Linked DNA regions of Homo sapiens: region 2 is linked to region 1. The links come from fine-mapping of genetic effects on gene expression. A gene starts in region 1. The other region holds a variant in brackets. All regions are shown on one strand. Distances are between the middles of the regions.

Region 1 (15,732 bases):
AAGATTAACATACAGTAAGATCATCTGTATAAAATTTAAGATCTAGTATCATTGCTCAAATCCAAGTAAACTGCTCATTTGTAATAAAGTTTGTATGGGTTCGCAGACCTCATCCTTGGCTTACTGAATCAGTTCCTCTTGGGATGAGACCCTGAAATCTACATTTTAAAAGCTCTCTGGGCAATTTTGATGTGTCTTGTCCTGCACTAGGGAATGTACTAGCAGAGGAGATATGTCTGTGTAGTGTGACTCTGATGAGCTAATTATTGGCTTTTGAGGAGCACTTAGGATTTTTATGAGTATTTCAGAGAAGTGCAGAGTGGGAGAGGGGGAGGTGATGTTGATTCCAGGCAAACATGAATTGTATTTGTTTGCATTTGCTTGTGGCTATAAAATATTGACCTTCCATTTTCAATATGGAGAATTGTAGAGTTGGTACCTCTCATCTCCATACCCTACCTGGCCTGATACCCCAAAGATTGTTCGACCTGCATTTCTGAACAAAATATCTGCCCTGAATTCCTGTCTCTTTTTTGCCCCTAGTGATCTGGGCTGGGTCAAAAGCTCCTTTTTAATCTAGATAGAGAACAAGCCCTAAACAGCATGCCTCAGTTTCTGGTCTAGCCTGATTCTTTCATCACTAGAACTAAAGTGCTTTCTTGAGTAAAAGACATTGAAAGACTTAAAAGGCAACTGTAAACTCAAGGGCTCCAACACTCCTAGTATATAGACTCTTCCCTCATTGTTTCTACTATCTGCTCCCCAACTTGATAGCCCCATCTTGGCTGCTGCAAATGAGAGGAAGACAGAAGATATGGAAGACAAAAGGAGGTTCAGCTGCTTTTTCTACCTCAGGTAAGAACACTAGTCTGCTTCCTTTCAGCTTTTTAATATCTCAAATAGATTCCCTCATCTTCATTATCCAACTTATATGAATGCTAATTTGGCTCCATGTTGCTTCTACTCAAATCATTATGGCCTCTTTGATAATTTTCAGGGCCCTTTCCCTAAATAATTCAGCAATAAATGGCCAGAAAATTAGGTCCCTCAATGAGGTGATTCCTAGCTTGTATTTTAGGCTTTTTGAGGACCAGAGACATCCCATTACCTTGAGTAATGAGGATTATAGGAAGGAATCACATAGAATTAAGAAATGCCATGGAAATGGGAGCATGTTTGCAAACGACAAAGTCCTTCAGAATGTAAGAAGGCTCCAGTGAGAGTTATCTCATTGCTTCTTGGCAGATCGAGTCGTGAATCTCAGCCAGAGTTTTGCAATATCAAATATGATGACTCAGTCACTCTCTATATGACTCAATATCAAACCCCATGAGAGAGAGGATCTGCCTAGGTTGGCACTTGAGCTATGCCACCTCAATCCACTGGCCAGTCCACAGAGGGGCCACCTTTGAGCTGGGTGTTTACCTGTGGTCCAAACATTCATGGCCAATAAATGGGGGTGGGGAACACACCACATAAAACATGGCCACTGTCTTAGGTCAGGTTCACCAGAAGAAGACTCCAAGGATTAGTGTGAAAGTGATTTATCAAGAAATGTTCTACTGGGAAAAACTGGGAAAGAAATGGGGAAGTAGGATCTATTATAGAAGGGAAGTTGGGAGATGCAGGAATGTGGTATCCAGCAAAGTCCCAGGAGGGTAACTTTGGTTCATTCCCACAGGAGGAGCTCTGGAAACAGGGTAGGTCATGCCTCAGAGGGTCACGCCTCAGGAGAAGAGCATCTGGGGTATTTATACCCCAGAACTCATTAGTCTTTGGTTATGGATTGGCCTGAGGCACAAATTCCCAAGCACTTCCAGGCTTTCTTGCCTAAGCAAAGTAGATTCTGGCAGCCTGAGGACAGTTCATCTTCAAGGAGATGTAAGAATAAGCATACGGGGAGTCTGTGCTCAGGAAAATGATCAAAGGGTCCGAGGAGACATGGGTTGAAGTGTGGACAGCGTCTGCTATAGCTTCGTAAAGAGATAGCTAGAGAGGCTTCCTTCCCCAGGGGCCCACAGTCAGCACGCACACCCTAAGCTGAATAGATTCTTCCCTATATAGCCTGACAAGCTGTGTTGGAAGCTTGCGCTAAGGTTGTGGAAGACTCAGCCCGCTATCTGCCACCTTCATCTCCACAGCCTGGCAACCTCATAACTGGCTGACTGAAGCGAACGTAAATTAGACAAAGACCAGCACAAATCAGACTCAAGTTAACACACGCCAGACTCTGGCTGTTTCTGGTTTATAAACAAAAGATAAACTATTTCCAACAATGTCAACAAAAATAAATTAACTTTCTTATTAAATCACTGAGAAATGACATTTCAAATATTTTATAAAAATACAGCACATCTATCTATATCCAACTCTGCTTTTGTTTCCACAAACTCTTGTCAGTTTAAAGATCTACACAATTTTCTCTGTAGCCCGTAAATGAAAACTTTCAGTTTTTCCTGGCTGGCAGTGCTTTTTCCTCTTCTGAGCTCCGAAGAGACTGGGTTTCTTTCTGATGGCTTTGACCACACCAGAGCCTGCACTGTAGGATTTTTGCCCACGTCCCACCAAATGTTAACCTCTTAAGGACAGAAACAGGGGCCCATTCACAGTGATACAAACATTTAACAGCTGAATCTCTGGGGAAAAATGTATGTATCTGTACATAATGTTTATTATATTTTAATGATATTAAACAATTCTTAGCTTATAATTTATAAATAGTAATAAAATATACAAATACTCTGTATTATAAATTCCATATAGCCAGTTGGTTTTTACAGAATTATTTTGTTGATTTTTGCCAAACTCTTGTATTTCTAACCAACCTGTAGTTGCAATTAATGAATAAGAGGAGTCCAACATGAATGTTGGTTGACAGCTCCGTTCACATTAACAAGACAAAAATGAAGATGTATATGGAAACTTTAATGACACGAATGACTTCTTTGCTGAATCAGATAATTATTTTCAAATAGTGGGAGAATGTAGCTTCAATTTGTGTGTGTGTGTGTGTGTGTGCCTGTCACAATTTCATGGCTACAAACAGGAGATACTTTAATGTGCATTATACTTTCCATCACTTTCTTGAGTTTAGACAATCAACAAAACTATAAATCAAGCCTTGCTTTGTGGCTATTGATCATTTCCATAATGTAAATACTCCCACTGTAGTCATTTTCAAGCTACCAATGTTGCTGATGTCAGAGTTGGGAAGAGATGCTCAGTAGTACATCACGATAAAGTGTTTCCATTATAAAGATACAATAGATGAAAATAAACTTCAAGACATAAAACAATAAAATATTGTGAAATAATTAGAAGGTGATAAATTTTGGGTATCTGTTGCCATTGTTTTAATATAATTTACTAAACAGTAAATTTATATAATGTAGTTTTTAATAAAGGCTGTGCTTAATGAGCTTGCAAAATTCTTGAAAATTTAACAATAGTCTTGCAAGCCAGTATGACCCAGTTCCAGTACACCACTGTCACTCACATTTCATAATTCATTGTCTTGCATGCTACTGAGAGTTACAAATTGTTCAGTGATTGCATGACTGATGGTAAATTAGAGATGTTGACTCTCTGATTCTGTTTGACATGCTCTGTCTTCCTCTTAAGAAGATTCTAACTTCTTACTAGTGGTAGTAGCTGAGCTCAAAAGGTAATTGTTCTAAACTAATAAAGGTCCTATTGGCTTATCTGGATGAAACACCATGTACCTCTGATAAGATATCAGCCTCCTTAGACCAGTTTGTGTCCTTCTGTTAGTAGTAGTCAATGTTTCTTTATAATACTCGGTTTCTACAGAATCATAGAGAGCATATTATAAATGCCCTCAGATCTTAAAATGTCAGATCTTTTTAGGTAGCCTTGGTATAGTTCCCCGTTTTTTAAATACATAGTACAAAATACAATCTATAACACAACACTATCCATAATCCAATGGTTACCATTTAATGACTCTTAACAACATTAAACCAAGCATTTTTCCCCACTCTAAGTATCCCATCTGTGTTTCTATCTGCTTCTTTAGGTTATAAGGATCTCCCTATAATGCTTAATATGAGTCATTTTTGTTGTTGATGATGATTAATTTATGACATAGGACTGTCGGTGAATAATACCAGGACCTTATAAGTGAAACTTTAAGGTTAAAGTTCAGGGTAGTCCCAGATGATACAAGAAAGTCTTCAGGCACGAAGACTGATTGATTGTCTAGCCATCTTGGCTGCTGGGGAGGTTGTTGATTACTCACAATGCATCTCACCTGATAACTCCAACCTTGATTTCTTTTCCCTTGAGTTACATTTCTCCCAGGACAAAAAGAGGAGCAGACAGTTCCTATAGAAATAGGTTCCATGCCTGATGGGCTCTCCAAGAACCATTTACAAGCGAGCATCCCAGCTTCAGTCTGTTTTCTGGAAAAGACTTCGATAGAGCATCTGATTCATTATCTTCCCTTCGGACTAGTGAGGCATTATTGTTTTCTTCTTATGGAGAGATCCAGTTGATCTGGGGGTTTGCCCAATACCACACCACCAGTAAGTTCCAGGAGGAAAGCTGGTCATTGTTTCCCAAGTTATGATTCTCATCCATCCATGCATTCATTCAATAAACACATAGCAGAAGTGCACCACAGGCCTAGCCCGATGGTCAGTCAGTGCTAAGGACTAACAAGGAGAATGCACAGGAAAAATGTACAGCCATTTGAGGTAGGGGAAAGATCACAGGCTTTGGGGTCAGACATCCTAGGTTGAATTCCAGCTGTATCACCTTCTAGCTAATGTGGCCTTGGTCAAGTTACCTAACCTCTAAGTCTCTGTAAAAGAGAAGTACTGTTATAAATCTCATGGGGTTAGTCTGAGAGATATAAATGAGGTATATGAGGCTTGCACAGAGCAGGTGCTTCAAAAATGGTTCCTGTGATGAAGGCTGGAAAAACACTGTCCTTATTCTCATGGGACTCATAGTCTAACAGGAGTGGCAATCTGTGAAAACATACAACAATAACATAATGGCTCTCAGAGAAGCTAAAGAGAGCACTGTGGAAACCCACCACTTTCTACTTGGTCAGGAGACTGATCATGAGCAAAAATGTGACTGTGACCTTGGGCATATCACTTAACCTCTTGAATCATAGCTCTTCCATCTACTAAACACGGGATAGATATTCAGATAAGAATAATCCTGGCTGAGTTTACACATCTTGGCTCTCTGGAAGCATTCCCAGCAAGGCGTGCCCTGCAATTTCATGCTCTGAAAAAGTCTATTCAATTGAAAAAGCTGACAGTGATACACACCCCTTTTAATAGCTTAGTAACATAAGCAAAACACAGCCGTGACAACTGGTATCACCTTGCCGTTGTAAGTGATAAAAATTCTCAATGAATGCATTACACACCCAGCTGAGGTTCCTAACCAATCTTCCATGAAGCCCTTTTATGTAAATATTAATGTCATATTCTACCCGTTAAGTCCATTCAGATCCCACATCCAGTTCATAGATTGACATTGCTGTTTCTAAAAGTACAGATTCCCAGTGCAGAAATCAAGGAAAATAATACCATTGATATTGATGATGAAAATTTGAGTAAAATACCACTTTTTTCTAAGTGATTTGCAACAACAGTGAAAAAACACGTCTAGAAACTATATTACTATAAAATTGAGATGGAAGACATTTCTGTTACCTCTCCTACAATGCAAATATTACCAATTTCTCTGTTTACATAGCTATAAATGTAAGTATGGACTTAAAAGGTTTTAGAAGAAATCAGCAGGTTAGAGACAGTTTGGCTATAAAGGCAGCGTTTTCTTTTTCCACTTCCTAACATTCCCCTTCCACTCCTCACTCACACCCCCACATACCATCAGCCCTCCCCTTCCACTCCTCACTCACACCCCCACATACCATCAGCCCTCCCCTTCCACTCCTCACTCACACCCCCATATACCATCAGCCCTCCCCTCCACTCCTCACTCACATCCCCATATACCATCAGCCCTCCCCTTCCACTCCTCACTCACATCCCCATATACCATCAGCCCTCCATATCTATAGATTCCACATCCTTGGATTCACCAACTGTGGATAGAAAATATTTTTAAAAAATAAAGACAACAATCCAACAATAAAACATAATACAAATAAAAAAATAAAGTATAACAACTATTTACATGGCATTTACATTGTATTAGGTATTATAAGTAATTTAGAGGTGATTTAAACTATATGGGAGGATATATGTGGGTTATGTGCAAATACTATGTTATTTTTATATAAGGGATTTGAGCATCTGAGAATTTGATATTTATGGGGTCCTGGAACCAGTTCCCCAAGGATACCAAAGGACAACTATACCTCTTTCACCTCTCTTACTCTTTTTTTCTTTACTTTTCCATGAATCACCTTCATGCACACACACACCCACACACACACACACACATTTCTAGACAAGATACTTAATAGGGAAACTGTCATCAAATCACAATGGAGTTTTCTATACTGAATACACAGATAAGTCAGTTATTTCTATATTGCTTTAGAGAATGTCTGAAATAAGCTAGATATGGGCAAAAATTTTTCTTTTTCTGACTGAAATATATTTTTAGGGCACGTTAATGCTAAAATTTGGAATTGCTGCATTATGCTAAAGCAGGTTCCCCAAACTGTGTTCCATGAGTGTCCTGGGGGATGTTAAAATGTTCTGAGTTTTAAAAACTCTGTGGTTAGAATTCCATGGGAAAATACAAATTGGCACATTACAGACTCGGAGGATTCTTGTGTTAAAGAAAGGTATTTAACTTTTTTTGTGTTAGAAATTCACAAATATATTTGCTGATGGAACTATTATTTTATTAACGATTGATTGATTGAATAGTTCAGGGAACACACTTCCGGAAACACCAAACTAATGCAGTAAGAATTTTCTTTTTTGTGTGCTGCAGAGCTGAAGAGTGGAACTCGCTGACTCCATTTCAGCCCCGAGTGCCGCCCCTCTTCTGATGGAAGCAGACTGTGCTGGCACTACCTGCTTGCTTTCTCATCCACTTGCGTGTCTAACAAGCTTCCCATTCACTGTCTCCTGCTCTGCCATCCAGAATGAGCAGAAGTTTTTCCATTGCCCTATTATAATCTTGCAGATCTTTAAAGGATCTCACAAAGTAGTTGTGAGCACCTTCAGCTGTCTCAGCCAGTACTCTTGTGGTACCATTGGACTTTGTGCTAACAGCAAACATCGCCTGTAAGGACTCCAGTCCTAGAATCTTGGGCGGCAGCGGGGCGGGACTCGGGGGTGGGGGGGCGGTGGGGTGGGGGCGGGGTTTGTTTAAACTCTCTTGGACCAGCCACCTGCTCTGTGGCCACTCTGTGGACCACTCACTCTCCTCTCTGGAGAGTGTCATTATTCTGACTGCCTTTTTAAAGGTTTTCATCCCTACAAAAGTTGACTTTAGGACCTCCTAACAGGGGACCTCTGTCCCAGTACTGGCTTTGTCTGCTGTTGTCAGTCTCACACAAAGTAATTCAACAAGCCATTAGTATTTGTTGACTAGGTGCTGGTGCAGTAATACCTGCCTCTCAGGGCTGGTGAAAGAGGTGGAGGAGTTCATGGATGGAATGAGTGGTTCCTGACATGGCATAATCATTAAAAGCTACTTCTTCATGGTTGGTACTTTGTGCTTGTAGTATAGAGGTGAGGAGCACAGAATTGAAAGCCAGAAAGAACTGGATTGAAAGCGCAGCTCTTCCTCTTGTTGTCTGTGTGGCACTGGTCAAGCTACCTAACCTCTCCAATGGAATCCCCACTTCATTTAGACAACGGAAATGATAATGGCCTATCCCATTGTGGTATGAGGAGCCATAAATGAAATACTGTATGTAAAGCTAGCATAATATATGATATATGGCACAGAGTGAGGGTTTAATAAATAGTAACTATGATTTGTATTAGTGCAGAGCAATGGTGGGGTGTGTATGTCTGTGTGCAGATGCAAGGACTGCTCAGTCTATGGAGTCAGAAACATCAGTAAGTAAGCATAACATCAAGTGGATTGTACATGCTACACAAATATACACAGGGAAAGTAAATTAATTTTGACAGACAAAACAAACAGTATTTTGGAGGTAGCATTTGACATTGACATGAAAACATGAGTAGATTCTATAAATTTGGGGCAATATTAAGGAGGAAGAAGATGCTAGGTACAGGGAACAGCATGAGCAAGTCAGGGATCAGAAAAATCACAGGATGTTAGAGGCAGGGTTGTGTGTTCACTCATGTTTGGGATCATGGAGTGGGGAGTGTGGACACGGGGCTGCACTGCCAGGCTAGGACCAGATCATGGAGAGCTCTGGATGCTGATCTGAGGAGTTGAGACCTCCTTTTTTAAACCCTGAGGAACCAGCAAAGGTTGGAAGAGGATAATTATAAGATTCATCCCTGAATGAACTTGCTCCCCATCTCAGCAGCAGCGCTGTCGTGGAGCCACTGGGGTTGTGACCCCACTTTGTTTCCATTCCAGCACTTGGCAAAGGGCCAGACATGTAGCAAGGACATCAAATAAATGTATAGGGGGCTCCCATCAGAACATTTGGGTTTTGGGAACACTGGAGTGGCTGTGACAGAGCCGGGAGCTTTCCTCTCATCATCCACATCAGGGTTTGGAACTAGAAAGTCTGGCATCTAATCCCTCTGTTGAATTGTGAGCGCAGCTGTGGGAGAGGTGTTTTTGGTTTTGTGTTTTTGTTTTAATCCCCCTTAGGAGCTGTCAGAGGTGCAATGGGCCTCCTCACAGTACTCTGCCCTCCTCAGCACCAGCAGGTGAACTGCTGAGTTTTCAGTGGTGAGCAAAACAGTCCTGCTTCCTTCCCTCCCCTCCCCTGTTGACACTCATATTCTGGAAGGGAACTTAGATGTTAATTAAATAATCACACAAAATAAATAACTGGAAACTGGAATGACACAAATGCATGTGCAAAGGCCCTGAGGTGGCAAAGAGCTTAGAGCATCAAGAAACCTGAATAAGAGCCAGTGTAGGCTGGGTGTGGTGGCTCACACCTGTAATCCCAGCACTTTGGGAAGCCAGGACGGGCAGATCACCTGAGGTCGGGAGTACGAGACCAGCCTGATCAAAATGGTGAAACCCCGTCTCCACTAAAAATACAAAATTAGCGGGGCATGGTGGCACATGCCTGTAATCCCAGCTACTCGAGAGGCTGAGACAGGAGAATCACTTGAACCTGGGAGGCAGAATTTGCGGTGAGCAGAGATCGCACCACCATTGCACTCCAGCATGGGCAACAAGAGTGAAACTCCATCTCAAAAACAAACAAACAAACAAACAAACAAAAAAAGCCAGTGTAGCTAGTACGCAGTGAGTGAGGGGGAGAGAGGCATGGGGTGAGGTCAGGGGAATAGGAAGAATGTGATGATTAACTTTAGTGCTGGAGGAGAAATGGAGAAAGCAGGCTGTGGACGTGAGTCACTGTGAGGATGGGAACGGGGGTGGAAGTCCAGGGGTGAAGATGGCTAGGCCCACACTTGATTTCTGATAAGGATAGACAGCTCAAAGGGGCTGATAGCATCTTGATGAAGGGCGATGGTTGAGTGATAGGAAGGCTCAGAAAGACTGGAGAGGAGGTTTGGTGACTCTAAATAGAGTGAAAATGTAGCAGCTAAGGAAGTTATAAAAATGACTTCAAGTTATGAAAATGACTAAGGCAAAGTTATAAAATAGGCAAAGTCTGCTTTATTGCTTCTCCACTTCTGTATCTTTGATAGTTTCCTACCCCACTAAACATCACACTTCATGCTTTCATTTAACAAACATTGACTGAGTCCCTCTTTCATGGCAGGTAGGAAGCCCCATGCTGGGGATACAGAGATGAACAGAAACAGACACATTCCTGAACTTGTGGAGCTGCTGAGAAAGTAAGGTTGAATAGCTGAATCCTAGTGGTCTTGCTTTATTTTTTTTAATAAGCATTGTAGGAGGTCTCTATCGTACTGTAAAACTGAAGGGCAAGCATTAACCTCAATTCTGGCAAAGACTTGATAATCATGAGACAATTTTTTTTGAGAGGGTATCTAAATTATTTCCAAAACATCATTCAATCCTTTCTATGGAGAACAGAGTTGATCAATTTAACCTGAAATTTTAATCAGGAGGTTTTTGAAATTCACTGACTCAATGTATCATTGAAAAGATCAAATTCTGCTATAATTTCACCTGTTTATTTTTAAATCAGACATTGAATGAATTTTGTCTTCAATTAGCAATGCTATTGGGCATCTAGATGTGTGCAAAGCACAAAGACTGCTCATCATCTTTAAAGAGTTTGTGGGCAATCAGATCTACTTTAGAACAGTTGCCAGTCTTTTGGCCCAAAGAACAAACATGGCATCATTTGCTGCATTGTCTACGGATTCTAGGCATCTGCAAAGCCCGTGCTGAATACTGAAAATACAAAATGCAGAACACTATGCATGAGAAAAAAGTAATAAAAAAAGACAGCTCAGAGTGAAATGTTTCTTAGGCCGAATGTAGAAAAAGTTGCTGATAAGGAACATAGTGGGAAAACTAGTCAGGATTTGCAGTGCCCTGGTGTCGGGTATGGGAGCCTTGTCTAGTCTTGTGTCTAGGCAAATGAGTAGCCTCTGAGCACTGGGTGTTTTCTGTGGTTTTCCTCTTTGGGGAAAATACTCTGGGCTCATCTCCACAGTTAGAGGGGTCGTGTTGCTTAATGTAAACACTTGAGGCAGCATTCTAACTTTTCTAGATTAGGTTCCCATGAGTTCGGTTGGCCTGAGTCAGCCTCTAATAAACTCGGGACACTGGCATAACCAAGAGTCTGAATTGGCAAAGCTGAGGACCAGCCCCCGACTTGAAGTCACTTCATTGAGGTCTCCTAGGGGCTGGGCAGCCTGCCTTATCCTGGCAAGTCCCTCCGCCTCGTCCTTGGGTGGAGTGCCACACAGTGATTCCCAGAAAAGCCAAAAATAATTAACTGAGGGCTTTATTTTCTTTAGCATTACTAGTTACCAAAGTAACTCGGTGAATTCTCTTGCTGCTCACACGGTTAGACTGCTGCCTCATGGAAAGATGCCTTGAAGTTTGACTGATTTGAGTTTTAGTGTTAGCTCTGCCACTGAGTCACATTGTCTAAGTCAATTAACTTCTCGAACTTCAGTTTCTTCATCTGTACAATATAAACCCCTCTTACAGGTTTGGAAAGAGGTTGCATGGATGAGCAATGATGTATGTATGTAAAAATGTGGGCCAGCACCTGGAAGAAACAGTACGGGCTGCTGTTTACGGAAATATTTGCTGAAGAGAGAGAGGGAAAGCCCAAACCATTTTCTTAGAGTGAGGAAGCAGGGAAGGAACACTAGATAATTCTGTCACAGGAGAAGCTCTGCTGGAGAGAAGAGAGGCTGGTCAGGAAAGGTGGGGGCTTGTCAACACCTAGGCAGGTGTTAGGGTTCCAGGCAGCCCTGATGTGCCTTAGAATCGGCCAAGTTCTTCGCAGCTGGAAGAGTTCCGAATCAGGCTTCACAGGAGAGGTCGGGAAATCACCGAGGCCTCTCCCTTGGGCTACTCTTCACCCCTTTCACCTCCCAAACCAAGGAGGTCTCCCGGAGGGCGGGGAGCCTCGGTTACTAAGCGTGAGCGCGTCCATAGTAACCGCCGCCCGACGGGTTTCCCTCCTGGCCTGACAGCTCCCGCCTCTCCTATAACTGGCCAGTCAGCTCCGGCGAGCCGGCCGGGGCGGCCGCTGAGTGGCCCTCAGGCGCTGCTATCGTCACAGATAGGAAAGGCGGGGCCAGGGCCAGACTGGTCTGGGCCCCAGTCGAGGGCTGCAGGTGGTAGGCTGCGACCCCTTCCTCCCACAGCCCCTTCCCGCCCCTCGCCGGGCATCCGCCGACAGGTGAGTGGTCTCGCTGACTCTAGCCTGCCTCTAGGACTACCCCAAAGGATCCCCCTTCGCCAACCAGGACTCCAACTTCTCGCCTCAGGATCGCGGGAGGTCGCGGACACCCTGCAATTCCTCCCCGCGATCTTCACTTTTCCTTCCAAATAAAAACCGTACAAATCCACAGGCACCTCCCACCCAGACGTTGGTTTCCTCGTAATTTACCTTTCTGATGCTTTTCAAGGGTTTTCAAGGGATGCCCAGGGAAGGGGCATCCGAACCCCCGACACTGTGCTAATTCGTTTAATTTCTTAATTCTAATAATTACCCGTTAGCAGCGCTGTGCCTTTCCACTGCGGTGCTGGCCGCCCCGCACGCTGTTCCTCGTCCCCCTCTGCTTCAATAGCCGAGCCTTCAGATCTGCAGCCACGGGGAGGAGAGTTCAATCACCTGGTCTTGTAGACCGAGCTCCTTAAATTCAGATCAAAGCTGTTCTCTCACCGCCCAAAGTCGTTTCTGTTTAGCTTGGCTGCAAAGCTTTCGCTTGTGTTTGGGCAGTTTAGACCAAACCCCTTTATGTTTTCTCCTGGATGTATATAGTATTGTAGAGAAATAAACATCCTGGAAATGGGTAAAATTATTTGTTTGATTATTGTGAAAAAAATATACAGTTTTACTAACAGGCGAAAATGTTTTGAGGTAACTGACAAAATATTCTACTTTTTTCTTCTTTAAAATAAAATACTTCACACAATAAGTAGAGTGAACCCAGGGGTGAATCCATGTACCCAGTCCAAACTTAAACCAACAAAAAATCGATTACAGGCACAATTAAGGTCTGTTATGTAACCCTTGGAAATCCCATTCCCCTCTCTCCTTACCTATCCCTATTAACCAACAGAATTTAGCATTTACTTATATTCTGCATATTTTTATACTTTTACTACTCATATGTTTATCCTAAACCAATGTATACTTTTTTTTTGAGACGGAGTCTCGCTCTTGTCGCCCAGGCTGGAGTGCAATGGCATGATCTCAGCTCACCGGAACCTCCGCCTCCCAGATTCAAGCGATTCTCCTGCCTCAGCCCCCTGAGTAGCTGGGATTACAGGTGCCTGCCACCACAACTGGCCAATTTTTTTTTTTTTTTTTTGTATTTTTAGTAGAGAGGGGGTTTCACCAAGTTGGCCAGGCTGGTCTCGAACTCCTGACCTCGTGATCCTCCCAAAGTGCTGGGATTACAGGCATGAGGACCGCGCCCGGCCTACTGTTACTTTTTAAGTTGATAGAATGGTTATGCTGTACGTGTTGCAGGTCATTCATTTGAACTGTTGTGTGGTGATTCTTGCATGAATTTACCACATATTATGTATGCATCCTCCTGTTGATGGACTTTTAGTTTGCTCCCTTTAAAAATACTAGAAAGGAATTCTTGTACATTCTAATTGTAAACATATTTGCATTTCTCTAGGTACATACCAAGAAATTGAATTGCTGAGTCACAGGTAATTTGCCATTTCAACTTTACTGGATACCACCATCTAGCTCTCCAAAGTGTAATAATTTATATACCATCGATGAATAGAGTTCCTTAACCAAACTTTTTTTTTTGAAGAGATGAAGTTTTCCTGTATTCTTATGTAATATATGCATAAAGAGAAATTAAACATTGATGTCTGATATGATTTCTTCTACTTCTGGTATTTGTTAGTGTATTGGCAGCGCTGTTTTATTTCCGCTCCTATTTAGAACTGTAATTAAGTGGCTACAAAGGAACTAAAGGGGTTTGTATGTGAGCCCTTCAAGCCTATGCTTGCCCCTGATCTAAGGCAGGGTGTGGGGCAAGTCATGTAAACTTGTGTCTTCTGCAGAAAATGGTCTGTAGATTTTTGTACTTTAAAATATTTATGATCTTCCAGTCTTGCTTAAATATGCTAATAAAATGTTTACCCAGTATGAAGCCAACTTTTGGATAGCAAATGGAGCTTTCCGGTTCTTAAAATCTCTGTGTGATTGATTCTATATTTAGTATGTTAATATTTATGGAAGACTATTGTAGCATTTTTTTCAGTATGTAAATAACAGTTGACTGTAAATTAAGTGCACCTAGTCAAACATTGTATTTGACTTTGTAGCCCATGTCTCATTTCTTAAAATTCTGTTTGGGCACATGTCTTAGTTTTCTGCTGCTATAACAGAATACCAGAGACTGGGTGATTTATAAAGGCGGAGATTTATTGGGCTCACAGTTCTGGAGGCTAGGAAGTCCAAGATCCAGGGGCTACATCTGATGGGGGTCTTCTTGCTACATCATAATATGGCAGAAGGACAAGTGAATGAAAGAGACAGAGACAACGGGGGTGAATTTATTATTTTATCAGGAGCCCACTTCTGTGATAACTAATCCACTCCCACAATAATGGCATTATTCCATTCATGAGGTCAGACCCCTTATAACATAATCACCTCTTAAAAGTCTCACCTCTTAATACTGCACAATGGTAATTAAATTTCAACTTGAGTTTTAGAGGGAAACATTCAAACCAAAACATCATGATTAAATGTATAATAAGCAGTTGCCTAATTTAGGGGATTTTTCCATAGCTATTTTCAGTCATTTTTCCAAAGAATTTGCTGTTTCTTTGCAAGTATGAGATATTTATAGCATCGGTTAATGATCTTAGTATGTGCTGCACATGCTCTCTTAAGAATTGACTGGCTGGGCGCGGTGGCTCACGCCTGTAATCCCAACACTTTGGGAGGCCGAGGCTGGCAGATCACGAGTTCAGGAGATCGAGACCATCCTAGCTAACACGGTGAAACCCGTCTCTACTAAAAAAAAAAAAAAAAAAAAAAAAAAATTAGCCAGGTGTGGTGGCAGGCGGCTGTAGTCCCAGCTACGCTGGAGGCTGAGGCAGGAGAATGGCGTGAACCCAGGAGGCGGAGCTTGCAGTGGCGCCATCTTGGCGCCACTGCACTCCAGCCTGGGGGACAGAGCGAGACTCCATCTCAAAAAAAAAAAAAAGAATTGACTGAGTTAGAATTTAGAGAGTAAGTTAATCATTGTGAAAGATGCGCACCACCAAAGTAAGCCATAGGCTTTTAAAAACTGAGGTATTTCTTCCTTAAAAGTTTGGTAGAATTCACCAGTGAACCCATTGGAGCTTGAAGTTTTCTTTGAGGAAAGTTTTTAAACTGTAGATTCAATTTTTAAAAAATACTACAAGGCTACTCAGGTTTTCTAACTCTTCTTTAATCAGTTTTGGTTATTTGTATCTTTCAAAAATTTTGTCCATTTCATCTATGTTGTCAAATTTCTTGCCATAAAGTTGTTAGTAATATTGCTAAATATTGTATTAACCAATATTTTGTTTACTTGCTCTATGATTTACTAACAGACAAACGTTGAAATATTGAAATATAATGTGGATTTGTCTATTTCTCATTTTAGTTCTGTCAATTTTTGCTTTAGGTGTTGAAAGTTAGGTAAATGATTACATAAACATTTAATATTGCTATATCTCCTTGACTGATCCCTTTATCCTTATTTTTCTCTTTATCTCCGATAATATTTCTTGTTTAGAAGTCTACTTGATTTGATATTAATATAGCCACTTCTGTATTCTTTTGATTAGTGTTTAAACAGTCTATCTTTTCTCATACTTTTATTTATTTCTTTTTTCTTTTCTCTTGAGATGGAGTCTCACTCTGTCGCCCAGGCTGGAGTGCAGTGGCATGATCTCGGCTCACTGCAACCTCCGCCTCCCAGGTTCAAGCAATTCTCTGCCTCAGCCTCCTGAGTAGCTGGGATTACA
Region 2 (15,732 bases), 47 kb after region 1:
ACAAATAAATTGTTTATACTGCCGTTAGACAGACACAGGGTTGCTTTTAAAATGAGTTTTGGGTAGTGGTCTAATAGGACTTCGGAATTATCAAACAATGAGGCATTCACAGCTTCTCCTGAGGAGCTGAATGATTTTTACTCTTTTTTTTTTTTTTCCTATTCCTGGCTAAACAGAATTTGCTTTTCTTTCACTTCCTGCCGACTTCATGGTATGTCTATTTCCTCTGCTCCTTTACTGACTTTTGAACAAAACCTACTTTTGTTTCTGTCAAGTTTTCTTGTTAAAATATCCTTGCCAAAAATCTTTAGGATTATTATTGGGGGAGGGGATTACTTTCCTTTTTAAATGGATGGTTCTGAAAGCAGCCCTTCGGCGGTCTAGATTTAGAAAAAATAAAGATCATAAACTAAGGGGAGTGGGGACTGAGAAAAATTGCTGTTTTCATTTCAAGACTTACTTTTATTTAAAAATGTTCTAAACGAGTTATTTCAAAAGTGATTCTAAACATTCTTGGCATTTTTGGTGGCAGGCCAGACAGACCAGGCTCTGCTCTACTTAAATAATCTTTATGTATATATATATGCACACACACACACACACACACACACACACACACACACACATATATATAAATAAACTGTGGTAGCTTTATTTGTATTTGAATGCAAGACATTTTGTGGTTCTGTAATTCCAAAAAAAAGAAGAAAGAAAGAGAAAGAGTGACTTCAGCAGAACAGCTCTCTGCAATCAGCCAAGAACAAGGAAACTGGGAGTGAAATAGGGCCTTGAAGATGATGAAAAATATATTTCTAATTAACGATGAGAGAAGTGGAAGCATGTTATTCCCTAGTTGTGTCCATGCAGCAGTGTGAAAACAAGTATTCTAACTGCCTACGTTCTATATCTCGATTTTTTTTTTTTTTTTAGCATTGATGTTTTGACATGTATATTTTCAAATGTTCCCTCCCAGATAAAATTTCCACTAGACTCGTATTTGGCTGAAAGGAGTAAAGACACATATATCATCCTGCTCTGTTTCCTACGTTGGGGTTCAGGGTTCCTGTTGAAGCCAGGGAGGGTGGGAGACAAGAGGCAGGCCCCGTGTGATTGTAAACAATCCACCATCAAAAATCCCATTACCAGCCATCTGCGGCAGCCTCGCCGAAGATGTATTTCTTTGCTAGTGATATTTTATACCCTGGGATCTTTAAAAAGCCTTTCTTTTTTAATTCAGTTTGGCCTAAACAATAACAAGAAATTTGCTTTCTGATGAGTTCTCAGGTTTTGTGTTTACCGTCCCCAGACAAAACCAAACTTTGGCACTTAAACTTTAATTCTTCCCCTCCCCATTGGAAAGCAGGAGACAGTAGAGCTTGTAAGATGAAAGGTGTTGCACAGCGTGGATATGTTCCCATGGCCTGTTGTTGCTTCAATCAGCCTGCGTGGGGGCCTTTACCACAGCCTTCCTCTTCTTAGGCCACCTACAAGTGGCTTGGAAGCGAATGCTCCAGGCTCCGTCCTGCCTTTCCTTCCTTTTTATTGCCTTGGGTCTGGGTCTTGTTCTTAGTAGATCCCATGGATTCAGACCTTGGGCAACTCTCTACCTCCCAAGACGTCCTCCGTTTCACCTAGGGCATGAAAGTTGGTCTTCACCCAATAAGTAGTTTTTGCACACCTGTATTTTTGCAGGAGCGGCTGTGGATGTAGCCCTGGGCAAGGACAGCAGATGTTGCAAGCAGACAATCACAAGACCCTGAGTGCCGTAAAAGGCTTGGTCCTTTTGGAAGTCACAACACTGGGCAGCAGATGGTTTCCGGTTTAAGGGAGGGACTTCCGGAAGAAGTGTTAATTCACCTAGGATTTGAGGATGGGATAAATTAGCGGGATGAAGAATGGGTTAGGAGCATTCTGAGCTTAGGGGACAGCAAGAGTGAAGCCCTCGAGGTCTGAGAAATTGCAAGCATATTCCAGGATGTGTCTGCAGATGATGAGATAGGTCTTCCTGGGTCTCTGCTTCTACTCTTCTGTCTCAAGGAGCTGAGAGGGGAATGGGGCCAGGAAATGGGACCCAGTTTCTTATTATGGCCACTGAAGCGCTGAATTTCCTTCTTAGCTTCCTGGATAAGCAGGTACAGCTTACAAACACATGTGGGCCCTGTGTCGATGGAAAGGACAGCTTATGAACCCCTGGGCTCTATTTCCTAGTCTGTAAAACAAGGAAGTTGGGCTTGGTGACCTCTCTAAATTCGTTTTCCAGTTGTGAATTTCTGTGAAACTATAGAATTGCCTTGGCATAATGATTTTAAAATGGTCTAGATATTTTTCTATAATTATGAAATCCTTTTCTATCTCCTGGGACATCTACATTCCCATTGGTTCATTGTCACCATTCTCTTTATATTTCTTTATATTTTATTAATTTCATGCACCTCTCATTTGCTGATAAATATATCCTAAAGTAAAGAAAATGTGAGCTTTGCATCGCTGGTTACAATGTGATGTACTTGGAGTTGCGTAAGCTACATGCTGACCTAACCATGCTGATTCCTTTATGCTGCAGCCTTGTTAACGAGGTACACGAGGTTGACGACACCATCCAGACCCTGCAGCAGCGCCTGAGGGATGCAGAGGACACCCTGCAGTCGCTGGTCCACATCAAAGCCACACTCGAGTATGACCTGGCTGTCAAAGCCAATTCCCTGTACATCGACCAGGAAAAATGCATGAGCATGCGCAAGAGCTACCCCAACACCCTCCGGCTGGTCGGCTTCTGCTAGGGACCCCACCGGGTGTGGTTTTGATACCCCTAAGTTAAGGCTGAGCCAGAGCACTGTCTCAGCATTTGAACCGAATGCTAATATAGTCACTTATTAAAGGATTATGCTGATGGAAATGTACCAACCTCCTGTCTCGGAAAGCCTTTTGTTTGCATCCAAACCTTAATTTTCTATTATTTACTAGGCGTCTGGGTTATGGGAAGGATATGAAGAAATATAATCAATCTAATAGAGAAGGTAAAAAGGATAACTGGTGTGATTCTTGTCATTTTGTGTGTAATCCGAATGGGCTGGAAAGGAGGACTGTATTCTCTCTGAGGCAGTCAGGAATCATGAAGTAGGTGGTTTCTGAGTTTTGCTTTAAAGGATCCACAGTAAGAAGGGGAAAGGCCACTGGGTATGAGGTAGTTGGGGTAATTTGATCAAAAACAAAGGTAGAGAAATACGGAGTGCATTTGGAACAATAGTAGGTAGGGCCAGCTTGGCTGTGATTCATAATGCATAATTCATAATGTGTTCTGCACGTCTCTTTTTGTTCCACTCTCATCTCTCCAATTCAAACTTTTATTACTTGAGCATTGCTTTCATAAAGCCATTTCCATGCTCAGAGATACTCCTCAGTTCCCCCAGCCCCTGAACCTGGAGTTGAACACCCACTGCCCCCCTTCTCCAGGCACCTCGCCCACTGTATTTCTTCATATGTGACACTTTTGTCCTATGTACTGACAATATATTCTTTATATGTTACTTACCTTCACATTTTGTTTATGGTTTTTTAAAATACACAAGTAAAAATGTGTCAGTGTTTTCTGTGTGATTTATGCCTTTGGAATTATGCTCAGAAAGCACTTCTGTATCCCAAGATAATTTATTTATAATTTATTCTAATTCTTTTGTATGTTTAAAAGTGGCATTTAATCACCTGGAAAGTATGTTTAGATGGTGTAGAAAGCATGCTAGTTTTGAATCCTTTTGGTCTGAGAGCTCTGAAATGGGAAGATGAACCAGGAGGGGAGCAAGATTTTCTTTCTTTTCTCTCCTATTTCTCACGCTTCTGTGTCTCTCTCTCTTATTAGCATTTCTCTCTGTATCCTTGTGTTCTCCTTGCTCTGCCTTAACCACTGTCCATTAACCCCAACTCCATTTCCTTCTCTCTCTCTGTTTCTTAAAAGTGTTTTAAGACCTTGGTTAGTAAATTTCACAAATCATCTCAGAATG[C/A]CAGAAGAGTGGATGTCCAGATGAGAAGCTTGTATTGGGGTTGTGCTGTGGTCTCAGTATATCATTTTAGAAATCAAATTGTAGGTTTAGTTGTTCTGTTTTTGCCTCTAATGGAAACAAAGGTATATAAATGCCACTAAAATTTTTAGCAATGAGAGTAACCAAATGTTGGTAGTTATGACTTTTAGACAATAGTGGGAATAAACATAAATTCAGCATGTCTCTTATTTGTTATGTGTTTGGGGTAAAACATTTCTGACTTTTTTCATGAACTGTATTTTTTTTTTTTTAGGAATATATGCTTATGCAGTCCTTTTACTGAAGCATATATATTCCTGGCATTACAAGACTGTGATGGGAAGGAAATGTAATTCAGACATAGAAAAGTTTTTTTTGTTATTTTGGTAAACCGTGGGCAAGGCTAAATTCCACAAATAAACATTTGGTTTCTCATCTAAAATGTTGCAGCTACTCCAGGAGGGTAAATATTCTAATGCTGAAGTCCAAGAGCTCCAAGGCTCAGAAGCGTGGTCCTGTTTAAGAATCTTAGGACTACAAATACTGGCACATGATCTGGCTTTATTTATTTAAGCCCAAACTATCTTTAATATCATGTGGCTTTAAGAAGGGCTGCTGGAATGTCAAAGGCTTCCACTTACCCAAGCATCATTCAGATTTAGAAATGTGTGTAATTGCCCCTAAATAACCGAGTCGCCTGTAATTTTAGTAATTTCCATTTCTGTCTCCGGAGAGTGTTGTCATAAACACCTCACCTGGCACTTTTGAGTCCTGAGTTCATGCTGTAAATAGCTGAAGTGTGGGGTCTGATTTTAGGTTATAATTTTTGTTTTGCACCAGAAACGGGCGGATTCCTTCCCTTTGTATGCAGGGCTAACCCAAAGCACAAAGGAGGAGGTGAAGCTGCTGCTCATCATTGTGCCCGAGTCTTCCCTTGCAGCCTCCCCTCTTCTAGCCCTGGCCCTGAAACTGTTCCCAGCAGGGCTGGATTCACCATTGGCACCAACTGCCAAGACCAGCCTTCTATGCAGAGTGCTCTGATGATGCTATCTGAGCTCTATATTAATATATATGGTCTGATAAGTATTCATGCATTCATGGGGAAAATAAACAATACTCAATCTCTTCCCCAGGAATGGTGAATCAATTCACCTTGGGGGCCAGTCCTAGACCACTGGGAATGTTTATCTGGAAGGTTGAGTTGAGAAGGATCCTGAGAGGTCAACAGATAGTGCCATATGAAATGGGTGCTGTGGCTCCTGCTGAAGTCCAAGAGCTCCAAGGATCAGAAGCGTGGTCCTGTTTAAGAATTTTAGGACTTCAGCATTTTGGGAGGCTGAGGCAGGAGGATTGCTTGAGGCCAAGAGTTCAGGACCAGCCTGGGCAACATAGGGAGACCCCATCTCTCTACAAAATAAAAAAAATTAACCAGGCATGGTGGCACACACCTGTGGTCCCAGCTACTTGAGGGACTGAGGTGAGAGAATCACTTGTGCCCAGAAGGTCAAGGCTGTAGTGAGCCATGATCATGCCACTGCTCTCCAGCCTGGGCTACAGAATGGGACAGTTCCATCTGCAGGGAATCCAGAATGGGGAAGTGGCTGCATACATTCCCTCATCCCTCTCTCTAAACAGCTCTGAATTCTTTCTCAGCTCAGAGAAATCCTTGGCTTTCAACATCAGAAGGATGTGTCTTGTGACCTCTGGCTCATTCCCATAGGACCTACCCATTTGCTAATTTTGCTAGGAGCTAGAAGGAGACCCTTTCTGCAGCCCACGTTTTCCTTTTGGCAAGGAAAGACCCCTAAATACATCACCATGACTCCTGAACAACTCAGATGGCATCATGGTAGAGTGAGGGGAGAGCTTATTGAGAACAGGGAGCCTTTCATAGCTATTCTAAATAATATCCGCTTGTGTATGCATAGGGCTGTGGGAACCATAAAAATAACTTTTATTTTGCAAGCACTTTTTTCCCTCCCTGTAAAGTAAAGGTTAATTTTTAAGGTGATGTGAAATCTTTGGACTAAGTTTCAGCATTCCCGTCTTTGGCATTTTAGCCCTGCAGTCACTCAGACATAAGAATGCCTTCCCTACTTCCATAAAAATGATGCTCTGCTTGCCCGAGAACCTGCTCTTTAGCAAAACTGCACATTTTCTGATAATAAAAATCCATATCTGTATTGAGGGCCACCCATTTATTTGCAACGAGCTGGTTGTCTTCATCTCTCAACCCCAGTGCTCTTCATGGGTATAGCAAGGACAGGGGCTCCTGAAGAGAGAGGAGGACAAGCAACCTGAGAGGAAAATAATAAGCCAGGTCCACAGACAACACCCATGAGCACCACATGTAGCACAGTCTGAAAGATTAACATATTGATGCTTTGCAGCAGTGCTGGAAGGGGCGACCAAATTTCCCAGTTCCCTAAGGTGGATATCATAGATATTGGTGGGAAATATCTGTGGGAAAATAACCATGCCTCCAAATACTCATGTCCTTGTGAAGTCTTCCCTCCTTGAATATAGGCGGACTCTGTGATCACTTGGACCAATAGAGTGCAATGGAAGTAACACTGTGTCAATTCTATGTCTAGGCTTTAAGAAGGCCTGGAAGCTTCTGCTTTTGGAAGCTAGCTGCCATATAAGAAATCTGACTAGCCTGAGTCCACCATGCTGTGAGGGAGCTTAAGCAGCCCACGGAGAGGCTCCCCAGCCAACAGCCCTAGATGAGCTCTCAGGCTAGGCAGGCACCAACTGGTAGCCATGTGAGTGAGGCCATTTGGGATCTTCCCACTCTCCTAGTGCCCCAGCTGATACCATGTGAGAGAGAAGGGCTGCTCAGTCAACCCACAGAATCTCAAGAAATAATAGATTGTTGTCTTAAACTACTAAGTTCTTAGGTAATTTGTTACGTGACAATAGACAACTAAAGTTTTCACTGGATTCTCAGAAATCAAATTCCTGGAGAGGAAGGACATCTAACATTTGTGGAGTGCTTACTATGATCCCAACATATAACATGACAATCTCCTGAGTCCTCTTGGCTGATACTAGGATGTGAGCTCTTAACTACCATCCTATACTGTTTTTTTTTTTTTTTTTTTTTTTTGAGACGGAGTCTCGCTCTGTCGCCCAGGCTGGACTGCGGACTGCAGTGGCGCAATCTCGGCTCACTGCAAGCTCCGCTTCCCGGGTTCACGCCATTCTCCTGCCTCAGCCTCCCGAGTAGCTGGGACTACAGGCGCCCGCCACCGCGCCCGGCTAATTTTTTGTATTTTTTAGTAGAGACGGGGTTTCACCTTGTTAGCCAGGATGGTCTCGATCTCCTGACCTCATGATCCACCCACCTCGGCCTCCCAAAGTGCTGGGATTACAGGCGTGAGCCACCGCGCCCGGCCCCTATACTGTTAATTGGTCTCTGAGAGGAGAGTAATCCCAGACAGTGGTTCCCTTCTCAGCAACAACAAAAAATGTGTAAAATGATTGCATTATTGGAATTAGATCTGAGGACAGAAGCATTTAAGAAATTTTTACTTTTGGAAAATGTGTATAAAATTAAAACATGAGTGGGATCCAGCTTCTGTGTCATTGATCCTATCTTGAGATTGATACATGTAATGATAATGATAGCCAGCTTTTCCTGAGCAGAACAACTGTACGTGTATTATTTCAACATCATGGCTAAGGTACATACATTTAATTATTTATATTCTAAAATGGGAAAATTGAGACTTAGGGAAGGAAAATAACCCAAAGCCAAACAGGGGCGCATTTCAGAGTCAGGAGTTCAACTCAGATGAGCTTGCTTCCAAAGCTCTTTGCTATCATCCTACAGTGCCTTCTTCTAAGCTGTTTAGAATGAATTAGACATCCTCAAAAGTTGTGTTTTTAAAGGAAATTATTTTAAAACCAATGTTTTAATATCCCAACAGATATTCATGAAGGTGTAATATTTTATTATAAATAATCAATACCATCAGTACAATAAATGTTACCATAGTATTGCCAAGTCTTAGCTCTAAACTTCTTTGATTCTATCTTTAAGTAGAATTTAAGTATAAGAACTGAGTATCTATGTACTCTGTTTTTTCAGATAGAGAAAACCATTCCCTGACAATTTGATAAAAGGTATATGGAGGCTAGTCCCACAACTCATCAATGTCAATGGGTATTGCCAACAGGATGCCAGAAGAGATTGAGTGAGGTACAGTTATTTGATTTCCAGAACTCTGTCATTGAAAACCAACCTAGCCATAAGTGGCCTAGACTACTAAACTATTTACAGCATTCCACCTCCTTAGTCCCTTGTGGATGAGTGGATCCATGTGACCGAGCATAAGGGATGTGAGTCACTTCAGACTTGCATATTTAATTGCCAGTGTGAGATTGTCCAAAGATTTCTTCCTTTTGACATGACAACCGAGAACATTTGAGATATTCTCTGAGCCACCACAATAAACAGAACTTACTTGCTGACCCACTGCAGCCATTCAACATGCGAAAGAAATATATTCGTGCAGTCGTAAGCCATGGACACTATGGAGTTGTTACTGCAGCCTAACCTAGCCTATCCTGACTGATGCACCAACCAGAAGAAACAGCTGAATGCAGGGACTATAACATGAATGGTCATTTTCCACTCTGAAATTCAGACTGTTTAGTTCCCCAGAGTGCAGGTAGTGCTGGCTAGGCAATTGAGCACATCCCATCCCTAGAAATAGCAGGCTAAAATGAAATAGTTTTCAGCCGGGTGCAGTGGCTCACGCCTGTAATCCCAGCACTTTGGGAGGCCGAGGCGGGTGGACCACTTGAGGTAGGGAGTTTGAGACTAACTAGCCTGACCAACATGGAGAAACCCCGTCTCTATTAAAAATACAAAATTAGCCAGGTGTGGTGGTGCATGCCTATAATTGCAGCTACTTGGGAGGCTGAGGCAGGAGAATTGCTTGAACCTGGGAGGCGGAGGTTGTGGTGAGCGGAGATTGTGCCGTCACACTCCAGCCTGGGCAACAAGAGAGAAACCCCATCTCAAAAAAAAAAAAAAAAAAAAAGTTTGTACCTATTTAGGAAACAGGACAAAGCAAGGCCCTCTAAGCACAGAATAGCCAGCCCAGAGGTGCAGGTATTTCTAAGACTATGAGAGCCAAAACAACCCAAGGCGCTTTAGTGTTAAAACACTCAGAAGCTATAGAGTGGGGATGGCAAGCTCAAACGCTTATGGGGCCAGCCAGGAGATATAAGCGAAGGTTATTCAGCTTTCCTGGTATCACTTTACTATAACAGAAACAACAGTGAGGTTCAGTGGCAGCTGAACTTCAGCTGCTGGGTTGGAGAAACAACAAGGAGTTTTAGGGGAGCAGAGAGCAGGCCTCAAATAAGCAGACCTGAAGAACGTGTGCCCAGACTAAAGAGGGAGCCTCTATTCTGCTCTGGAATGTGCCCTGTGTGGCTGGAACTGCTGTACCCTGCTGTTGAGGTTATTGAAACCCTGGTAAGAAACAGAAAGCTCTGGCTTGGAGATTGAAATAATACTATGATGTCTTCAGATGCTTATTTTACAAAGCAACTTAAGAAGGATAACAGTAGAGACGGGTGCCCCAGTTTAGTCCTAGAGCTTAGGTTTGTTTTATTCATACTTCAAATTGCAGTGTCGGTGGCCACACTGGGCCTGAGATGAACTGAGGCCCAGAGATGCAAGAATGTACCAGCTGGGACAGGTAACATGATGTGGTTTTAATTTATAGCACCAGTGTACAGTCCAATAGAAAATGGGAGATTGAGTCATTCTGGGGGACTAGACCTGTAAAATTAACTTTAAAAGTATATGTTGTTAGAAATCAAGAAATATGACCTAACCCATAGTGCAATACCTGTTCATTCATGTCTACAAAAGCAGCATTATAGTGTAGCTTAATTCTATTCATAAAAAATAAAAGAAGCTTGACATTCTCTAACACAAAATTTGAGCTGTCAATTGGGCAAACAGAGGAAGAGGCACATGAGCCGAAGACATGGGCCTTACTACAAATTCCAAATGGATAATACAAAAGGTCTTGACGGCACGTAGTCTTGTGATTCTTTACCTTTGCATGATTTTACAGAAGACTGCGCGGTTAGAGTGTAATTTTGAGTTGAAGAGACATCAAATTAAAATTTAATAACCAGATTGGCATTAGTGAAATACTCTGGCTCAGTAAAGAGAACAAAACAACTAGAGAATTATACTAGTCAACAAAATCCATCCCATGATGAGAATGAGAAGCTCTGTAGCGTCAGTTATGTGATGGATATAATCAAGGCAGCTGCTTATTTTAACATTTAAACCATATCTATATATTTATTTCTGTATATCCATATATATGGATTTTTTGGGTATAGCATCCTTGTTTTTAAGAATTTGAGTTTTAATTTTTTTATGGCCAGGAAGGTGAAGCAAATATATAATATTAATTTACATATATTTTTTCTTTTTTTCTCTGTCCATATTACCTGCATAGCAAATGACTTACATTTTATATCTTAATATTATATAAAATTGTATGACAACATAGAAATATATTACCCTTTTAAGATGATGAAACATTACAGATGAGGCTAAACTCTTTTTTGACCTCTACCACCCCAGTCATAGCCTCTCTCTCCTCAGTTAAATACTGTTATCAGTCAGATGAGACACGCTTATGTTTTTAGTTGTAAAGGCTGCATTGCTTGGCCTTTCGGAAGCCATTGCTATGTCTTTCAAAATAGAGGTTGGAAACCCGTAAGACTTCTTTGAGGAATAATCTAATGAAGTCTTTTTTCGTAATCAATAAAACTCCCTGAAAAATATATAAGCAAGTCAAATTCAGTGGCAAGTGAGAAGAATACACTGAGACCCAGTAGGAACAATAGGATGGTCCAATAATATACAAATAGATCCAAATCTTTGGATTTACTGTCTCCCTGCTCTCGGGCTGGTTGAATCAGGTGTCCTGAGTGACACTAGGCTGGAAACTGGATTTGGACTGGGAATTGTGGTATGCTCGCCTCCAGAGTCATCCTCCTCCTGTCCCCCCTGCCAATCCTTTGAAGAGATGGTCTGTAGAAAATTGCAATTCATCCATTTATTCACGGATTCAATAAACCAATTTTTACTGAACACCCTCTATGTGCTAGTGCTTTATGAGATCATGAAAATAATATGATGAATGAGACAGAAATGGGGTCTGTCCTCACAGAGCTTACAGTCAGTGGATTATACTGGCAACCAATAATCATACAAAGAACTATGTTAATTATGAGAATTTGTAAGGACTTGAGTGTTTGGGCCTTGGGAGGCTTTTCAAAGTTGGGACATTTAAGCAATTATCTGAAAGGTGAGAAATCAATATGCAACACGATGGCAGTGGGAGAGCCCCCATGGGTGTTCTAGATAGAGAGAAACACATTTTAAAAGACCCTGAAAATTTGAGTAGCTATCTATAGGAGTTATGTAGGGGCAGGGCCAGCTTCATTGGTGTGAGACTCAGAAGGGTCTATGCTTGGTTTAGTGCTTTATTCTCACCATCTTGAAATTCTATGTATTTATTTATTTATTTTTGAGATGGAGACTAGCTCTGTTGCTCAGACTGGAGTGTAGTGGCACGATCTCGGCTCACTACAACCTCCGGCTCTTGGGTTCCAGTGATTCTCCTGCCTCAGCCTCCTGAGTAGCTGGAATTACAGGCACGTGCCACCACACTAACTAATTTCTGTATTTTTAGCAGAGATGGAGTTTCACCATGTTGGCCGGGCTGGTCTCAAACGCCTAACCTCAGGTGATCCACCCGCCCTGGCCTCCCAAAGTGCTGGGATTACAGGCGTGAGCCACCATGCCCAGCCCATCTTGAAATTCTTAATAATTTTTGAACAAAGAGCCCTGCATATCCATTTTGCACTGGGCGCCTCAAATTATGTAGCCAATCCTGGGTGTGCGAGTGGGATCTGGAACCCTTTGGAGGGTTTTAAGGCAAGGAGTGACATGAATCTTGAGTCCTGCAGGAGCACTGTGGTTGTGCTGTGAAGAGTGAAAAGATGGACATAGGTATTGCCCTCGAGGAACTAAGGGTAAGGCTGGTAATGCCAAATCCAGCCAAGGCATTTGTTAATAGTAACACATTATAGAACTATATTGAAGGGGATCTGGGGAAATTGGAGGTCCGGCAATCATCTGATAATATCTCCTCGTTGGGATAAGCTATAATCTCTTATACATTGCCTCCCAATCTCTTTCCCTGAGCTAAATACCATGCAGCTCCCTTTGCCTTTTTGACTGAAGGCTCGATTTCTTACATCGATTAAGAAGCTTAAAAACCTGAAAGCTGGCCAGGTGCGGTGGCTCACGCCTGTAATCCCAGCACTTTGGGAGGCCGAGGCGGGGGAATCACGAAGTCAGGAGATAGAGACCATCCTGGCTAACTCGGTGAAACCCCGTCTCTGCTAAAAGTACTACTCGGGAGGCTGAGACAGGAGAATGGGAGCGAGCCCGGGAGGCGGAGCTTGCAGTGAGCCGAGATCACCCCACTGCACTCCAGCCTGGGCGACAGAGCGAGACTCCGTCTCAAAAAAACAAAAAACAAAAAACAAAACCTGAAAGCCATAACTTCCCATTTGAAGCCTCAGATTATCTTTTAGAATTGCTTGGTATCTTTGGCTGAACACTAGGGGCTCCTGTGTAAGGTGGGGCTACCTTTCCAAGGTAGCCTTTTCCTCTTCTTTCCTATCATTCAATGAGCCCAGATGATTGCAATGGGGTCTTTTAGTTGTTTGTCTGAATCCCTACTAATCGAGTTCCATGGACACACTGGAGTAATCTAGAGACAGAGGCTGTCTCCTCTGCCAAATGCAGTGTTTCTGTTGTCTGTGTAGCTTCTGTTCTAGGCATTTCCCATAAATAGTATTTAATGACATTATTGGCAGACACACCACCCTTCTTGTAGTGTTTTATCTATCAGCACTGTCCAATAGGGCTTTCTGCAATGATGGGAATATTCTACATCTTATCTGTCTGAATGACAGCCACTAGCCACGTGCGGCTATTGAACACTGACCAGAGCACCCCATGAAAATTTAGGGCACTAAAGCTTAGCAAGGTTATATAGTTGTTGAATGTGATGCAGTCAGAATAGGGCAAATCTGAACCTAAACCAAGATCTGTTCATTCTCAGTGATCTTTTCTCTATACAATGAATGGGTGGTCTCATGCAACAATTCATTTGCAAAGTCTTACAGAACACCTATTACATGTAATGGTCATTTTGGGGATGCCAAGAAATAAATAGCTCCAATGGGTCAAAAGGGGTGACCAAGAAGAAAGGAAGAGAGAATCGCTTTGTTGATCTCCACGAGCAGAGAAGAAACAAAGGAGGGTCCCTGTGTTGACCTCTGAGAAGATGGAAGAAGGAAGGGAGGGGAGCCCTTTTGTTCACCTTCTGAAGTCCAGGGGTGTTACCATTACTGTTGTACAGTGTAGCCACGTTCTGCGTCTATGTTCAACAAGCAAGATCCTTGATCACTGGAGGGTCTTCATCGTTTGACACATACAGGCTACATGTAGGAAATCCCACTTACGCCACCCAAGGTCTTTGATGAGAGTGAGGCTGAATAACCTGCCCAAGCCCACATAGCCACTGCGAGACCAAGTCCAGCTTGAAATCCAAATCCTGTTGACTTCAGTATCAATCAGGGTGGCAGTGAGTACAGATGCTGCAAACAACGTCTGTGCACTGACACCAGGGTTCTTGGGTGCCAAGGTAAGAAATTTTGATTAATCCTGTTGGGATCAGGAAGCCAGAAAAGCTTTTAATAGAAGCCTCCATGGAACCTACTTAGGAAGTAGGAAGAATAAGCTAGCGGAGGCAGCAGAGTGGAAGGAGGAGAAATCACGTGGTAAGGGTTTGTAAATTAGGGGCTCCTTTCACGCACATCCAGAAGATGTCTTGGAGGTGCTGGGGACAATGGTGCCATCGGAGTGTCAAGGAGAGGAGCTGTTCTGGGAGACCACAGGAAGATGGGCAGTTCCTTTTAGACCAGGAGGTGTTAGCTGACAGTAGACCACGCTGTGAAAACGTTCAGCTGGTCCTTGATGAACACAAGCCACGTGAACTAAACCAACTCATACTCTCAGGGTTTGGGGGTGTCTTAGTCTGTTTGTGTTGTCTGAGACTGGGTAATTGATAAAGAAAGAGATTTATGTAGCTCACAGTTCTAAAGGCTGTAAGAAGCACGGTGCCAGTATCTGCTTCTGGTGAGGGCTTCAGGAAGCTTCCACTCATGGCAGAAGAGGAAGGGGAACCGGTGTGTCCCATGATGAGAGATGGAGCAAGAGAGAGAAAAGAAGATGCCAGGCTCTTTTCAACAAGCAATTCTCTTGGGAACTAAGAATGACACGTTACCCACTCCTGAGAGAATGGCACCAAGCCATTCATGAGGGATCCGTCCCTATGACCCAAACACCTCTCACCAGGCCCACCTCCAACAATGGGGATCAAATTTCAGCAGGAGACTTGGCCAGACCAAACAAACCATATCCAAACCACAGGAGGCGGGGAGCAAGGTTAAGGAATGTGTGCAAGGCGCCCCCAGTCACACTTGAAGTGAAGTGTGTACAGGCAGCACACATGCAGGAAAAGCAAGAAGGCAGAGAAGTTCCCAGCAGGAAAGTCAGAGGAGGTCCAGGGTAGCTAGTGGAGAGAGGGTACCAAGGTGGGTGTGCTGAGGGGCAACATTATATAAGGGAGGTGCGGGAGGCTGAAGATCAGAAATAGAGTTGAAGGACAAGAAGGAGGTCACTGATAACTTTTAATAGTTCTCTTTGGGGAGTGCAGTGTACCCAGATAACACAGGAATTTAAGGGAAAGAGGAGCACGTTCCATGGCAGCAGGGGCGGATCGGCAGTGAAAGGAAGGAGAGAAAAGCAGCAATCAGAGAGACAATGAAGTCAATGTGAGTTGCTTTGACACAGAGAAAGCTGTTCATGTGTGCAGGCTTGCAGAGGGCAAGAAAGTAAAGCATGTATAATACAGCATATATTATCTTCTAGTGATAGATGAAATACTTCATAATAACTTTGAAGTTATTTTTAAGGTAAGATTTCTCTCATTATCTTTAAAAAAACTTTTCATCCATTTTCACTTGATTATTATTCCAGAAGCAGTATTTTTAAACTATAGTAATTATGACTGGGATAGACAGACAGATCAATGAAATAGAAAGTCCAAAAATAGGCGCACATGTGTGTGTGGATCCAATAAAATCCACGGTTCATAACGATGAAGAAAAGGATGGATGACCTAATAACTGGCTTTTTGGAAAAAAAATTAGAGTGTAATTTCATTTGATATGCTAATATAAATTTCAGATGATCATGGACTTTAAAAAGTCATGAAAGTACTAAAAAGTAAATTTAATGTTAATCTAAGCATATCAAAAACATAGAATCCTAGCTCACAATTGTAGGCCATTCAGACCGAAGGAAATTTTAGGTGGCTCTTTCAGAAATCACCTGACGAAGAACTAAATAGAATATGGTGAGAAACTGTTCTGTACTCCCTGCATCCATCTGAACATTTAGAAGTGCAGTAAGAGTGTATTAAACTCAAAAGCTGGAAGGTAGCAGTGAATGGTTCCTAACACACTTTTTATTTGAATTGGGCTTTGGAATTTTTCAAATTCCATGGCATCCTTCAGTTACAGTTTT

Alleles and levels. Positions count from the first base shown, and alleles are read on the strand shown. Sizes are in standard deviations (SD) of each study's normalised expression.
As copies of A replace C in region 2, the expression in skeletal muscle of the gene that starts at base 11,853 in region 1 goes up (small effect, 0.29 SD a copy in GTEx).

The links.
Region 2: its variant is fine-mapped to the expression of TEKT3 in skeletal muscle (GTEx, PIP 0.94).

What each region holds. Positions count from the first base shown.
Region 1 is chr17:15,337,718-15,353,449 of GRCh38, reverse strand. TEKT3 (tektin 3) reads left to right here and starts at 11,853. Exons shown (of 9, transcript NM_031898.3): 1 at 11,853-11,932; 2 at 13,389-13,422.
Region 2 is chr17:15,290,984-15,306,715 of GRCh38, reverse strand. It overlaps TEKT3 (tektin 3), which reads left to right. Exons shown (of 9, transcript NM_031898.3): 9 at 2,564-2,904. The coding sequence ends at 2,780. All of the region lies in intron 1 of LOC124903932 (a long non-coding RNA gene), which reads right to left. Among named protein-coding and RNA genes, the nearest start is that of PMP22, 34 kb to the right of the region's middle. The variant C/A (reference allele first, on the strand shown) is at 3,999.